2 separate regions of the Homo sapiens genome follow, and region 2 is reported to be linked to region 1. The links are microRNA targets in miRTarBase. Many come from high-throughput screens and were not tested one by one. Region 1 holds a microRNA gene; the other region holds the end of a gene's coding sequence.
Evidence for each region. The annotated mature microRNA hsa-miR-4655-5p reads CACCGGGGAUGGCAGAGGGUCG and lies in region 1 at 981-1,002, shown strand. An mRNA with a match to its seed (bases 2 to 7 or 8) in the 3' UTR can be bound and repressed. Matches are read on the target gene's strand: a 7mer-m8 pairs with bases 2 to 8, a 7mer-A1 pairs with bases 2 to 7 and ends in A, and an 8mer does both.

Region 1 (3,389 bases):
TACAGACAAGATAGGAATCATGCGTCTCCCCACCCTGAGCCCAGCAGGCTGTGCCAGGTGTCAAGTAGCTGGTCAGCGTATCAGCCACACAGCATTGCTAGGAGGGAAGAGGAGACCCCTTCGCTCTGCTCTCCCCGCTGCAGTCAGGGCCTGCCTCCCGCGCCCGCCAGGTGGGGCCTTGGCTGCACAGACCCTGTGCCCACTGTGAGTCCAGGAGCCTCGGGCTCAGGCCCCTCCTCCCCGCACCCCTGTCCTCCTTCTGATGGCGGGACAGTGACCCTGGCTGTGCCCACTCACTGACCAGCAGCATACTGTCTCCGTCCTGGCAGCAGCTGTGCGAGGCAGGCTTTCCTGTCCCACTCGCAGAGGAGGACACGCTCAGGTGCTGGAGTGGCTTGCACGGTACGGCCACAGCCCTGCTGACTGTACCCACGCGCCCCTCCACCCCTGCAGGAGCATCGAAGGATCGGATGCAACCAGACGGGTCCCCTCTGTCAGTGCCCGGCCTGTGCCAAGCCACAGCAGGATGTCCTGGGGGAAGCCTGGAGAAAGGAGTGCTGGGCCCTGGACTCCCCCCAGCTTTGGGGGGATGGTCACCAAGGGGAGGTGCTGGGCACGTGGCAGCCTCGGGGAGCACCTTCCTGGGCCAGCTGTAGGCCCGTCCCAAGCTGCGTCCCCTGCCTGCGCCTCTCCCTGGGCCGCCTCTGCCCCCTGCAGGGCTCCGTGTCAAGCTCCTTCAGCGGGGTGGGACCTCGAATGCCGTCCATGTCCCACACCTCGCGTGTCAGGGTCTGCAGTGGAGCACCCAACCGGCGTCTCTCCCCAGGTCTCCCCCCAGCCTGGAGGTGGCCCCTTGTGCCCCTGGGCCCCTACCTGTCCAGCAGCAGCAGCTGGGGCTCCCTGTCCACTGGGAGTGCTTCCTCAAGCATGAGGTTTTGGCAGGGGGGCCTGTGGGACCACCACACTTCTCCCCAAGGGCACACCGGGGATGGCAGAGGGTCGTGGGAAAGTGTTGACCCTCGTCAGGTCCCCGGGGAGCCCCTGGCAGGCCGTTCTGTGGCTGGATGTGAGTTAAGCGGTTCAGCCGTGTGTGAGGCTCCGTGACACCAGCCAGGACACACCTGGAGTTGTGGGGATTTTTAGTTGCCTTCTGGTGGTAGTGAAACCGTGCAGCCTTGCACAAGTGTTCCTGCATAGGCTCCACTTGCTGCCCTTCCCGGCCCCACTCACATCCTGAGTGTGTGCTCAGGCCCCTCAGAAGAAACCAAACTTCTGAGTGTCCCCTCCCCGCCCCTAGCCATGGAGTGGCCGTGGCTGAAGTGGAAGAGATTCAGAGGCTGACAGCCGAGGGGAGGTTTGAACCTCACTAAAATCATTCGGAGCTCACGCTCGTTTCAGCATTGCCCACGCTGTCTGGGTAGGAGGTGAATTCGCCTCCACGTGGCCTGCCGTGGGGCTTCTTCTTGCAGCGGGCTCTCCTGGGTGCTCCAGGAAGACGGAGCTGGGACAAAGTGTGCCCACTCCAGAAGTGAGTCTTCAGCTCAGGTCTCCTCCCGGCCTTGGTTTCTGACTCCTTCGTGTTAGGAAGGAGGCCCCCAGGAGGAAGCACGCACTTTGGCAATGAGACGTTTTAATTGCATCTTAAAATAGCATTGCAGTAAAGAACACTAAACCGTGACTAACCAATTGCACTTCAGGAGGCCCTCAGCACAGTCAGACACGGGGAAGCGCGGAAAAGCTGCCCACTTGTGGACGCCCATCAAGCCCCCTCAGGAGGGGCTGGATGACAGAGGAGGTCTACACCGCACCTGGGCCCCTTCCCCAGGTTCAGCCTTCATTGCGGCCTCCCTGGCCGTGAGGGACGTCTGCGCAGGAGCTCCCCGGGGCCAGCTTTGCCTGAATGTGGAAGATGGAGGGAAGAGTGTTACCGTTTAGTTGATTTACTGCCGAAGAACCTGTAAGGCCCAGGAAGACAGAGAAAGACGCCAGAAAGAGCATCATTCTGCAGGGTTCAAGGTGAACCTGGCTCGCTTTCAGAGGAGTAGGGCAACGAGGGCACCCAGACCCTAATTACACAGGATCCCGGCACTGTGCCATCGGGGCCTCATGTGTGGTCTTGGTGGAGAATGACCAGGGCTGCTCTCTAGCCCCCGTCCTCCAGATGGTCCCCAGAGGGACTGACACACTCAAGGAATGTGCTACTGGGAAGCCAGGATGCCATTTCAGTACCAGCAGCCCCACTGTGGGCCTCACTTGAAGGCTGTGCTGGAGCCCGGCCTCGGACTCACCCCAGCCAGCCCCTGAGCTCCAGGCAGTGTACCCTCCCCATCCGGGAACCAGCCGCAAGGCAGCCCGTGTGCTGAGCCACAGGGAGGGCCAGCTGGGCGAGGGGCTGACATGTGGGACGCAGCTGTGCAGCACTCAGAGGCCCTGCCCACCCTCCCCTCCAGGACACAGCCTGACCGTGCCCTGGGCCTCGGCTGCCTTGCAGGGGCCCAGGTGAGGAGTGGGAGGTGGAGGCCTCTGCAGCTGCAGGCAGTAGCTACTCAGTAAATGATGGGCCCAGCGATGGACGAAGGACGAAGGCCTCCCTCGGGGACCTGAAGAAGCATAGCTGTCTGTCCCTCGCCGGGGCTCAGGTGGCTGCAGTTACTCAGCTCGCCTGGGACAGGCCTGGGGGGCCAGTGAGCACGCGGCATTGTGGCAGCTCAGGCAGGCATGCGCCGGAAGGGATTCTGGCGGCCTGTGGACTGGGAGAACCTTTCCAGCTGCCAAGAGTTGCCCTTTGGATCCTAAGTGCAGGGCCAAGCCCGGCTGTGACGGCTGAGGCCGGGCTCCTGGAGGCAAGGCCACCTCAGGCCTCCAGGGCCGGAGCCGCAGGGAGCTGCTGGGTTTCCACAGGGCCACGGGGGCTGCGGCCACACGGAGCGGGAGCACAGGTGGGAAGGGTGTCTGTGAAAAGTGAAATCTGTCGCCGCTTCCTCTGGCTTAATTACCGGCATGGTAGTTGCAGAGTTGAAATGCAGCTTTAAAAGCCTTTGTGAGTAGTTAGTGTCAAACACACAAGATCTACAAAGCCATAAACTCACAGCTTGGTGATATTACCAAGTACTAATTAAGAAAAAAAAAGAAAATTCCCTTTCATGATCAAATTTTCAGCCCTGCCAAAGACGAAAAACAAGGCAATTTGCAGCGGATGGTGACGCCGGAGGGTAAGTGGCGTCCACAGGAAGATGGCGGCCGAGCGCGGCGAGCAGGCAGGGTCTGGCTGAGGGCTGGGGTGGTGACGGCGTGATTGTGCCTGGCTACCGGGTTCTCAGCCAGGGAGCACCTCATTCCCAGCAGAGATGGAATCCCAGCTCAGGAAGGGGAGACTCATGCGAGGGCAG
Region 2 (3,389 bases), not on the chromosome of region 1:
GAGTGTAAAGGCTCCGGGGCAGGGACGTGTCAGGTGCTTGTAGCCCAGCAGGCCAGGGTGGCTGGCGCAGAGTGGCTGGAGAGCTGGAGGCCATGGGGCTTTGGAGGCCAAGGGAAGGTGGGGCCTCCTGGCAGTTCTGAGCAGAGCAAGGATGGACACTGCATGTGGGGAGACCTGCAAGGAGGCTCGGCCAGGGTGGGGCCTGGTGCTCTGGGATGGTCCTTCTCTTAGGCCCTGAGGGGTGACCTCGGGGCCATTCCCAGGATGGGCCTTCCTCACTGGTACCCCACCCCTCTCCCGCCAGGCATGGCCGCCTTTGCCACCGCCCACCTCCTCTACGTCTGGGCCTTCGGCTTCTCTCCCCTGCAGCCCGGCCTGCTGCTGCTCATCATCCTGGCCCCTGGCCCCTACCTCAGCCTTGTGCTCCAGCACCTCGAGCCGGATATGGTCCTGCCGGTGGCAGCCTATGGGCTGATCCTGATGGCCATGCTGTGGCGCGGCCTGGCCCAGGGCGGGAGTGCCGGCTGGGGCGCGCTGCTCTTCACGCTCTCTGATGGCGTGCTGGCCTGGGACACCTTCGCCCAGCCCCTGCCCCATGCCCACCTGGTGATCATGACCACCTACTATGCTGCCCAGCTCCTCATCACACTGTCAGCCCTCAGGAGCCCGGTGCCCAAGACTGACTGACTAGGGAGCTTGAAGGGCCGGTGTTCAGGCCCTCTCCTCCTGCAAGGACCTGGGCCTCCCAGCCCAGCCCAGCCTGAGAAATACCCTCAGCAGCGAAGCTTCCTGACGCCTGTCTGCAGGCGCCGCTGCCGCCGTCGCTTCTGGCTGAAGACGTTTGAGGACGATTTGCGGAATTCCAAGTCCACTACTGGGTTCCAGCTGCCTTCCCCCGGTTCTGACTCCAGATCCCTGGCTCCTCAGCCAGGCCCACATGGAGCCCTCCCAGCCACCAGCCTGCCTCCATGTTCACTGTCGGCCCCACAGCCTGCCCGCCCCCTGCTGCTGCTCTGAATCCGTTTTCCCTGTGGGTGTGGAACCGTAGATGTTGCTGTTACCGTAGGAGAGGCCTCGGGGAGGGTCATGATTGTGATAAACCATCGCGGTTAATGACAGCAGAAGGTTCTTTGTCGCTCCCCATGGACCAGGCCTGGTGCCCAGTGGGACCCTCCATGGCCCTCTGGTGGGGGGATTCGGGGGGATAAAGTGAGGATTGTGCAGAACTGAGCCAAGAGGACTGTTTGGTCTTTGTGTTAGTTTCCTGAGGCTGCTGTCACAAATTACCCCAAGCCAGATGCTTTGAAACAAGATGAATGGACTCTCCTGCAGTTCTGGAGACCCAAAGTCCAAAATCCGGGTGTTTTCCGGCCCATGGTCCCTCTTGAGGCTCCAGGGAAGAATCCGTCCTTGCCCTCTCGGCTTCTGGAGGCTCCCGGGAATCCCTGGCTTCCATCGGCCTGTGGCTGTGTCTCTCCGTCTTCATGTGACTGTCTTCAACTGGCAGCCTCCCTCTGTGTCCGCATCCTTCTAGGGACACAGGTCATTGGATTTAGGGCCCACCCTAAACCCAGGGTGATTCTATCTCAAGATCCTTAAGTATGTCTGCAAAGCCCCTATTTCCAAGTAGTGTCACCTGCAGAGGTATCTGGGGTTAGGACTTGGACATATCTTTCTAGGGGATACAACCCGCTGCAGTCACATGCAGTATCGGGAGAAGGGTGGGAGGCTTGAGGATGAGGGGTCTTGGAGGAGGGAGGGCGGCAAGGGGGTAGGAATCAAATGGGAAGGAGGAACCCAGCTGTGCTCCTTGTCAAGGCTGTGTGACCTCGGCAAGCTGCTATCCCTCAGGTCCTCAGATTCTGCATCTGAAGACTTGACAGGGTCCAAGCTGCTCTCCAAGACCCTATTTGACTTCTGCATCCATGATGTGCTTTCAGTGACTCATAGCAGAGGGGCGACTTCTCCATCCATGGTTAGCATTTAGAGACTCTTACAGCAGAGAGGCGACCTCTCTATCCATGACCTGCATTTAGGGACTCTTAGAGCAGAGGTGACTTCTCCATCCATGACCTGCATTTAGGGACTCTTACGACAGAGAGGGGACTTCTCCATCCATGGCCAGCATTTAGGGACTCTTACAGCAGAGAGGTGACTTCTCCATCCATGACCTGCATTTAGGGACTCAGATGTGAGAGTACAGAGGTGGGAAGGGAAGGTGGGGAGCCTGGAGGACGGGGACCAGGAAGGAAAGTGAGGACAGGAATCCACAGTTGGAGTGAGGAGAAGTGGAAGCTGAGGGATTTCCTTGAGGAAGGGTCAGGCATGAGGAGGATCTGAAGGATTGGACTCAGGTTCGAAACCTCCACTTCCTCCTCATCTCCTACCCTCTCCACTCAGACCTGGCGAAAGGTGGGGAAAGAGGAAATTGCGCAGTGAAGTGTAGCAGGAGGGACGGGGGTCTGGGTGTGCAGATTCCAGGGGCACGTGGGGCCTGCAGACATGAGGGGTTCCTGGAGGTGAGGGAGGAGGGGCTGGAACCTGGACTCCTGGGTCTGAGGGAGGAGGGGCTGGGGCCCTGGACTTCTGAGTCTGAGGGAGGAGGGACTGGGGCCTGGACCCCTGAGTCTGAGGGAGGAGCTGGGGGCCTGGACTCCTGAGTCTGAGGGAGGAGGGGCTGGGCCTGGACTCCTGAGTCTGAGGGAGGAGGGGCTGGGCCTGGACTCCTGAGTCTGAGGGAGGAGGGGCTGGGGGTCTGGACTCCTGGGTCTGAGGGAGGAGGGGCTGGGGGTCTGGACTCCTGAGTCTGAGGGAGGAGGGGCTGGGGACCTGGACTTCTGGGTCTGGGGGAGGAGGGGCTGGGGGCCTGGGTCTGAGGGAGGAGGGGCTGGGGGCCTGGACTCCTGCGTCTGAGGGAGGAGGGGCTGGGGTCTGGACTCCTGAGTCTGAGGGAGGAGGGCCTGGGGGCCCGAACTCCTGGGTCTGGGAGAGGAGGGGCTGGACTCCTGAGTCTGTGGGAGGAGGGGCTGGGGGCCTGGACTCTTGAGTCTGAGGGAGGAGGGGCTGGGCCCATAATCCCTGGTGTTTGGGGAACATTCTGGCTTTTGGTCCCTGGGCTCTGTGGGGTCGGCAGTCCAGAGCGACGGGACGCTGCTCTCCTGTCGGCATCCAGCAGCCCCAGCGTCGTGTCCCTCCTCCCTGATTCTGGTCCCCCGACGACCTTTCATCTGACTTCTCAGAGGTCTGCTTTCTCATGATCTGATTCGTGTTTCTCTAAAGCGGGACTCTCGGAGGTGCTGCGCACATCCCTCTCAGGCTCCTTCCAGCCCTGCCGGGACCCAGACCTGGGGCAAGGGGCAAAACGCCGGCTCCATCTTCCCTCCCAAGCC

Region 2: miRTarBase lists TMEM86B as a target of hsa-miR-4655-5p. Seed matches in the 3' UTR shown: 7mer-m8 at 894-900.

Annotation. Positions count from the first base shown.
Region 1 is chr7:1,841,836-1,845,224 of GRCh38, reverse strand. MIR4655 (microRNA 4655) reads left to right here and starts at 972; the gene lies at 972-1,045. All of the region lies in intron 18 of MAD1L1 (mitotic arrest deficient 1 like 1), which reads left to right. All of the region lies in intron 1 of LOC100127955 (a long non-coding RNA gene), which reads right to left.
Region 2 is chr19:55,224,479-55,227,867 of GRCh38, reverse strand. It overlaps TMEM86B (transmembrane protein 86B), which reads left to right. Exons shown (of 3, transcript NM_173804.5): 3 at 305-1,230. The coding sequence ends at 687. Among named protein-coding and RNA genes, the nearest start is that of TMEM86B, 2.6 kb to the left of the region's middle.